Linked DNA regions of Homo sapiens. The protein of the gene in region 1 purifies or fractionates together with the protein of each later gene. This does not show direct contact. Each region holds a gene or a part of one and is shown on either strand. Other genes may lie near its edges.

Region 1 (3,815 bases):
TACTTTCCATTTAGTTATTCGCATTGCTGTGGACAGCTTCTGCTCCGTACATCTGTCTTCAAGTTGCTTCAGTTTTGTCACAGCTTTCTGGAGCTTTTCCTGAAGGAAAAATTTGATAAGTGAAGCCTATTCAATTTGACTCTTCATTAGGGACCTAGGGGGAATCCCAATCTTCTAAGATATATTTGAATAATAGTGAATATTTATAGAGTCCTCATTGTTTTTTGCTAGAGAGCATGCTAAAGGCTATATGTGCAGGAACATACTGATCCCCTTGGCAACCCTGAATAGTTGGTAGGATTTTAAACTTCATTTCTGTGCTGTAGAAAATGAGACTAAGAAAGGGGTAAAATAACTTGCCCAAAGGGCTATGACTGCCAGGTGGTGGAGCAACAATTGCAATCTCATCTGCTGACCCAGAGCCTGAGCTATGTCCACCACTAGAGTCCTGCCAGGAAAAAGTTGGATATAGAACAAGGTAATCATCATCTAAAAGATTTTGTAAAACAACATGCTGAACCAAGCAAAACCAATACCAGTGTTTGGCACACATGAAATTTTGTGTCTTATGAGTCAGGAAAAATCAGGATGCCAGCTGGTTATTAGAAACAGTTCATGGAAGAGGGGAATTCTGGTATCTTTTGAACAATGGTATCATGAATCCAATTTAAAATGATTTAGTATTCATGTCAAGCTTTTAGCTTATTCTTCAAAACAGTTTCTCATATTTCTATTGAAAGTGATTTGAAGCTGACCCAAATTGCTAATTGTAGTCAATGCTGAAAGAATTGTCTCCTGTCCTCTGTAAACCCAACAAGTATACTCATTCATTCTCGAGTGTTCTCAGGAAAAGGTTCTATGTAACTGTTTTAGCAAAAGATGACATTGTCCTTACTATATGCCAAGTGCTATTCTATGCATTCTATATTTTAATGTCCTCAAAGCTTATAACCACCTCCTGTGTATGTGTTTTAGGGAGGGAGGACACTGCTATTATCCCCATTTACAGATGGAGAAACCAAGGTGTGAAGACATTAAGTAACGTGCCCAAAATTGCCCATCTAGTAAGTGACAAAACTCAATTTCAACATAAGCTGGTTCCTTTTCTTACTACTTGGTGGAAAAGTAATTCAAATGGGAATATGATCATCGCAGTTATTAGCTGCTCCATGGAGTTTAAGGAAGAGCTGCCATGAGCTGAGTGGTGGTCATGATTGACATGTCCTTAGAAGGACTTAGAGCCTTCATACAAGACCACCTCTGCCTCATGGAGGACAGAATAAGGAGCCTGACACTGGAGACAACATTTTCCTCAAATTTAGGCAGGACAGAGAAGGAAAAAGGACATCAGGACTATGCCCATTCCTCCATGCTGCCAACAGCAAAGTCCCACCTTCCTTAATATGCTTTCTGGCAAGAAATCTGGATGGTACACAAAACCTCTCCCTCTGCTTCACCTTCCACAACCAAGCATTTCCAAATCTTTGACTCTTCTTCCTGAATCGTGCTTAAAATCTGCCCTCTCCTCCCTTTCTTATACGGATAGTTTGAATTTTACTCCTTGATATTCCTTTTATCATAGACATGCCACAGTAGCTGGGCACAGTGGTTCATGCCTCTAATCCCAGCATTTTGGGAGGCTGAGATGGGAGGGAGACCAGGGGTTTGAGGCCAGTATAAGCAAGAAAGGCAGACCATGTCTCTACAAAAAATAAAAAAATTATCCAGGTATGGTGGGGCATCCCTGTAGTCCTAGCTACTTGGGAGGCTGAGGTGGGAGGATTGCTTGAGCCCCAGAAGGTTGAGGCTGCAGTGAGCCGAGATTGCACCATTGTACTCCAACCTGGGATACAGAGCAAGACCCTACCTCAGGAAAAAAAAAAAAAAAAAAAAAAAAAAGTAGAGGTACCAGAGTGATATTTTCAATGTCACTGACCCTTCATTCCCCAAATGAAAATCCCCCAATAGGTGTTCAATTTTTACGTGTCCTTCAGGAGTTACTTCTAAGATGAACCACTCTCTACCCTAAATGTCCCTCCCCACCACCAAAACCAGGGACCTCCAGGCAGACATTTTTGATGGTTTGTTTTCTTTACTAGACTGTAGATACCTAAAAGGTGATGGGTCTTTCTTCCCTGTTTTCAGGCCCTACTGCATGGCTTTACATATTGTGGTTTTTCAAATGATATTCATGGTGTGAAACAAGAAAAAATGCGGGTGTTTGGTTTGAGAACAACCTGTTCTAAAGCAAAAAGAAATTCATCATAACACAAATGGATAGAGATAAGAGTCCAACCATCCCATTGAAGGTCAGGATGGACAGTCTAGATAATTGAGCAAGAAATCATCATAAACTATTTTTCAGAAGAATGACATGATGAAAGCTGTATTTCCAAGTCATAATGTTAGGTTTCAAGTTAAATCATCTCAGCTCCTGGGGAGCAGGATAAGACTTGGTACTTACCAAAGCTCCCGGGCCCACACACTCACCTTGTAGCCCTGGCATACGTCTTCAACAAGAGCTGTGGTGTGCCCTTTGTGCTGTGGTGCCCGCTCACAGCGCCAGCAGATGAGCTGCCCCTCGTCTTCGCAGAACAGGTGGAACTGCTCTCCGTGTTCCTCACATGACATTTCTTGATCCGTCTCTTTGAGGGCTTCAATGAGGCTTCCCAGCTGCTTGTTGGGTCGGAGGCTATCCATATGAAATGGAGCCCGACACTGGGGACAGCAGAATGTCTCCTGCCTCAGTTGCTTTTGGCTTGGGTTTTTAAAGAAGTCTGTTATACACAAGTGGCAGTAGCTGTGTCCACAGTTGATGCTTACTGGGTTCGTCATCAGGCTCAGGCAGATGGAGCAGGTGGCTTCCTCCATCATCTTCTTGGTGCTGGTGGTTGAGGCCATAGCTTTTATTGAAAAGCTCCAATATTGGCTCTAGAGATGGAGATGAAGCAGCCAGAATTTTCCACCGTGATGAAAATACACCTCACCTGCACCTCTATGTGATGAGCTGGCTGCAACTGACTTCCATAGGTCTTGAAGGTTTTCCTTCCAACCCCTATTATCTCATTTTGTATTGAAGAAAAGAGGACCTAAAAGGAAGAAGTTGAGGCTGAGGTTGTTTGGGCCACGTTTGAGAACTGCAACCCAAGTGCAGAGTTTCAAGTTGCCCTCATTAGCAAGCAGTTACAAGTGGTTGTTTAGAGGAAAAAAAGCAGTTTTAAAGCAGTTTTAAAGTTGTTTGCCAAGAATTTACATTAAAATAGCATAAGCTTTTGACTGGCTATACATTGTTCTTTGTATTACAAATCTCGGGAATATGTAGGTAATAGATGAGGCAGCCAGTCAGGAACAAAATGCTTTTAAACATGGGGTCTTAACTGAAGACCTATACTCCTGCCTCACTTGTCCTGATAAATTTTGCATACCTCACATAGCTCAGACTGCTCTAAATTATTTCATTATTTTTCTTTTCTCAGTCTTCTAACTTTTTTTTTTTTTTTTAATGAGACGGAGTCTCACTCTGTCACCCAGGCTGGAGTGCAGTGACGCTATCTCGGCTCACTGCACCTCCGCCTCCCGGGTTCAAGCGATTCTCCTGCCTCAGCCTCCCGAGTAGTAGCTGGGTCTACAGGTGTGCACCACTACGCCCAGCTAATTTTTGTATTTTTAGTAGAGATGGGGTTTCACCATGTTGGTTGGCTCGATCTCTTGACCTTGTGATCCACCCGCCTCAGCCTCCCAAAGTGCCAGGATTACAGGCATGAGCCACCGTGCCCAGCCTCTTTTTCTTTTCTTATAAGACAAGTTCTCGCTCT
Region 2 (4,348 bases), on another chromosome or scaffold:
TGCACGTCTAAGTGGATTAAGTGCGTGTCACCCAAGATAATATGGAAGAAAAACAGTAAAACCCTGGCAGGTATCAGAAACAGGAAAAATAAAAATCTAAGAACTAATTCATATTCACTCTCTTATATTAGGTAATTCAACAAGAGACTGATTTAAGTTTACCAGTAAGAACTGAGACGCTCTCTATTTCTACCAGAATGCCTCATATTTTAATAATTTTTGACTATGTTGTTATATAAGAAAAATACAATTTTTGGATTTTTGAGGTCAGCTCCACTAACAAGACAGTCTTACTTACTTCTCAAATAAAAAACCCTTGTTACCTCCATTTGCCCTAATATATAACACTTAAAAACCTCTCAACTGGCATCTAAAATTATAATCACTGTCTTCCTATGACTGGATTGGAAAAAATAAGAAGTAGTCACTAATAAAAAGCCAACAACTACAAAATTCCCCAGGCTCCCCAGGTCATATAATAACTACTCTGCTTAAGCAATTTTATCCTCACTGTTTCAGATATGTCATATTTGGTGTTCTATTTGCTTTTTAAGGAAGTAGACATACAGTCAGGTTTTAAAAGCCTCAATCCATTAAATGACTATTTCCAACATTTAGAGATTCCTGATACATTTCTCATACTTAACAAAAGAAAACTTTTATGGTATCAAACTTATCTGAATATAAAACTATACAATAAATGGATAATTACTTTCTTTCCGATATCCCCTCAAACTGTATATATAGCCTCCCTACTTTGAACATTCATTTTAATATAATTGGTGCTTGAGAACCCAAATCTAAATTTTTTAATTCCAAGAACTGACTTCGTATTAACCTGAGTTAAGGTTGTTGGTTTTAAAAAATTACACACACACACACACACACACACACACACACACACACAGAGAGAGACAGAGAGAGAGAGAGAGGAGGAAGTAGGAGTTCGTTCATTTTACTTGGATAAACTTGCAAACTGGATACTAAGACACTTTCATGTCAGTTTTAACAGACATCTGCTTACTTCCTCTCAGGTTTAAAATCTATCAAGAACGACAACTCAATGTCTCCTGCATTTTTAGCTTATGTTAATACTTATGTATTTTTAGCTACTGGTAAGTGGATATAAAACATATAGCGTATCACTAGAGATTGAAAAATATCTGAAAAACTAGAATTGGCCGTGCGCGGTGGCTCACGCCTGTAATCCCAGCACTTTGTCAGGCCGAGGGGGGCGGATCACAAGGTCAAGAGATCGAGACCATCCTGGCCAACATGGTGAAACCCAATCTCTACTAAAAATACAAAAAATTAGCAGGGCGTGGTGGCGCACGCCTGTAGCTATTCGGGAGGCTGAGGCAGGAGCATCGCTTGAACCCGGGAGGCGGAGGTTGCAGTGAGTGAAGATCGCCCATTGCACTCCAGCCTGGCAACAGAGTGAGACTCCGTCTCAAAAAAAAAAACCACAAAAAACCACAAAAAACAAACAACAAAAAACCAAAAAAAAAAAAAACCACAAAAAACTAGAATCATGAAAATCATCTGTTTGAGCAAATCCTTTTACAGATTAGATGTAAGCTGTACCTCAGTTTGATAAAGTACTATAAAGTACTTTACAATAACAATAAACTATACGTGAGACGTTGGAAGCAATTATCCCTAAAGTCTATTCCAGCTCTAAGATTTGGGTTTTTTACAATAACAATAAACTATACGTTAGACGTTGGAAGCAATTATCCCTAAAGTCTATTCCAGCTCTAAGATTTGGGTATTTTACAATAACCAAACATTGTCCTCTCGACTGGCCAATCTGTTTACAGTTAGGTGTTATGTCTATTCAATACCATATCTGTCACATCAAGCACAAGACAAATCATCTAATACTATCTGCAGTATGATAAATGACAGCTTGGTGCTAACTTTTAAGCAGGTAGCTCCCGTTGAAGTAACCTTTCAACAGAATGCTTAAAGCACGAATACCGGCAAAAATAAGATTCCATAACAGTCTTATTATTTTTACACAATCTTTGATGCAACTCAGAGCGTATCCTTTAGCACCTTCTCTTTTCCCCTCAACTTTAAAATGGGGCTGAAGTTCTATTCACTTTCATTTTTTTAAAGCCACACTCTTCTTATCTAGATCTGAATTTCAGAATGAAAAGATGAATACTTTAAGACTGAAAATCCATAGCAAGGGCAAAGGAAAGTACTGTTGTATAATGAAAACCGCAAACTGCAAGGGGCTCAGAAGATAACGGGCGTTCATTTCTAACCTGTGCAATCACCTAGAACAAATCGTGTGGTTCTGGTCTATAAAACCATTCTTTGTCGCTCAAAAGACCACAAATACAAGCACCCTTTCGCAGAAACCCTCAAACTGACTGCCAGGGAGATTACGTAACCAAACATCGCCAAAGACTTATCTAACTTGTACAGCGGCAGCCTGTTTGACCTCATTCATACAGAGAAGCGATCACATTAAGATCCAGCACTTGTTTCTACATTTCCAAGCCGGATTCTGCCGTCCTCCTCCTTCTAAGACGGGCGGTGCAGCGTCACAAGCGTCGGGACAGATCTATCCGGCTCGGAACAGACTTCGCGCTCTACCCGGCCAGGCCCAGCTCTCACCCGGGGACCCGTGTCGGGCTCCGCAGCTGGGACATGGCGCCCCCCGGCGGGCGGCGAGGGGCTCGGCCGGACGAAGCCCAGACACCCGCAAACTCCCGACTCCACAGGTAGCGGCGCCGACGCCAGGGCCTCCGCGCTCTGCTCTCCCAGGCCCCGTGCCCCCGGCCCACCCGGCCGCCCTTACCATGTTCTCGGCGCCGACTCCGCCTCCGCTCGGCCGCGCGCCCTCCCGCTGCCGACCCGCGCCGCCGCCGCCGCTCTCGCAGCACCGACCGCCGCCGCCGGAGCCGGACAATACCCCGTGCCCGCCTCGCGCTGCTGTGGCCAATGCCCGCTTGTCTTGCTGGTTCGAACCCCAGCGGCTGTTCAATCGCGCGCCTCCTTCTAGCCAGACCCCGCCCCCCCGGCACCGCCTTCCTAACGGCTGTTTGTTTTTGCACACGGCACGCGGAGGCGGGGCCTCCAGCCCCAATAGTGACGCGCTCTCTGCCTTTCACCAGGCGCCCAAGCCTGACGAACAGAAAGGCAAACCAATGAGATTGGACGCCTCGCAGACGAAAGCCAATAAAAATATCGCCCGCGAGCAAGGGAGGCGGGCCACTGGGAAGGACAGCAAAATTAGCTAATAAGGTGAAGCGATTGCAGGCGCTGTGGCTTTCCCGCCCATTCGCGGCGTTGGTTTTCCCGCTTCTGAGACTTGTTTGGGGAGGTAAAGAGTGTTGGACGTGCTTCTCCTGGTGGGTTTTCACAGACTGTGAGGATTTATTCGTCTTAGAACGTGTGGATCAGGAGGGCGCTGGGTTTCAAGGTTAGGCAGGCCTCATGCTCAGCCGTATTCTGGCGGACTGACTACCCTGACGTCCTCTCAGCGCGGACCCTGACAAGGTCCGCGGCAGGCTGAGGCGGGAGAATCGCTTGAACCCCGGAGGCGGAGGTTGCAGTGAGCCGAGATCGCGCCACTGCACTCCAGCTGGGCGACGCATCGTCTCAAAACAAACAAACAAAAACAAAAGCTATCAATTGGCTACATATTGTTATTTGTATGACAAATTCTTTTTCCTTTTTTAGAGATGGAGTCCTGGGACTACAGGCGCGCGCCCCAATGCCCAGCTAACTTTTGTATTTTTAATAGAGACGGGGTTTCTCCGTGTTGGTCAGGCTGGTCTCGAACTCCTGACCTCAGGTGATCTGCCCCCCTTTGCCTCCCAAAGTACTGGGATTACAGGCGTGAGCCACCGCGCCCGGCATGTATTACAAATTCTAAGAACACGAAGATAATGGGGCCGGCTTGGTGGCGCGAACCTGTAGCCTCACCTACTGTCAAGACTGAGACAGGAGGATCTCTTGAGCCCAGGAGGTCGAGGCTGCAGTGAGTCATGATCGCACCACTGCACTCCAGCTTGGGAGACAGAATATACCCTGTCTAAAAAATAATAATAAAAAAAAAGGTAATGGATGAGGCCGATAGTCAGGAATGAAATGACTTTAAACAATTGGGTATGCATGGGATTGGGTATGTGTGTATGTGGGGGCAGAGGGTGGGCATAACCGAAGTCCCATACTCATGTCCCTCTAGGCCTAATACATTTTGCAGACCTCACAGAGCTCAGACTGTTGTGAGCCGTTTTTCTTTTCTCAACCTCTTCAGTGTGTTTATTTTGCTTACATCATTAGGTTAAAATTTGGAGGATAACTCCCAGCTAGAAAGGAAGAAAAGCTC

The links.
Region 2: the proteins of TRIM38 (region 1) and H2AZ2 purify together in Homo sapiens (affinity purification with mass spectrometry, with the first as the bait; one large-scale study listed by BioGRID). This does not show direct contact.

What each region holds. Positions count from the first base shown.
Region 1 is NC_000006.12:25,965,609-25,969,423, reverse strand, and holds part of TRIM38 (E3 ubiquitin-protein ligase TRIM38), read right to left. Parts: intron 3,090-3,815; 5' UTR 2,902-3,089; coding exon 2,491-2,901; intron 100-2,490; coding exon 4-99; intron 1-3. UniProt on the Homo sapiens protein: E3 ubiquitin-protein and E3 SUMO-protein ligase that acts as a regulator of innate immunity. Acts as a negative regulator of type I interferon IFN-beta production by catalyzing 'Lys-48'-linked polyubiquitination of AZI2/NAP1, leading to its degradation.
Region 2 is NC_000007.14:44,845,157-44,849,504, forward strand, and holds the start of H2AZ2 (histone H2A.V), read right to left. Parts: upstream 2,932-4,348; 5' UTR 2,816-2,931; coding exon 2,813-2,815; intron 1-2,812. UniProt on the Homo sapiens protein: Variant histone H2A which replaces conventional H2A in a subset of nucleosomes. Nucleosomes wrap and compact DNA into chromatin, limiting DNA accessibility to the cellular machineries which require DNA as a template.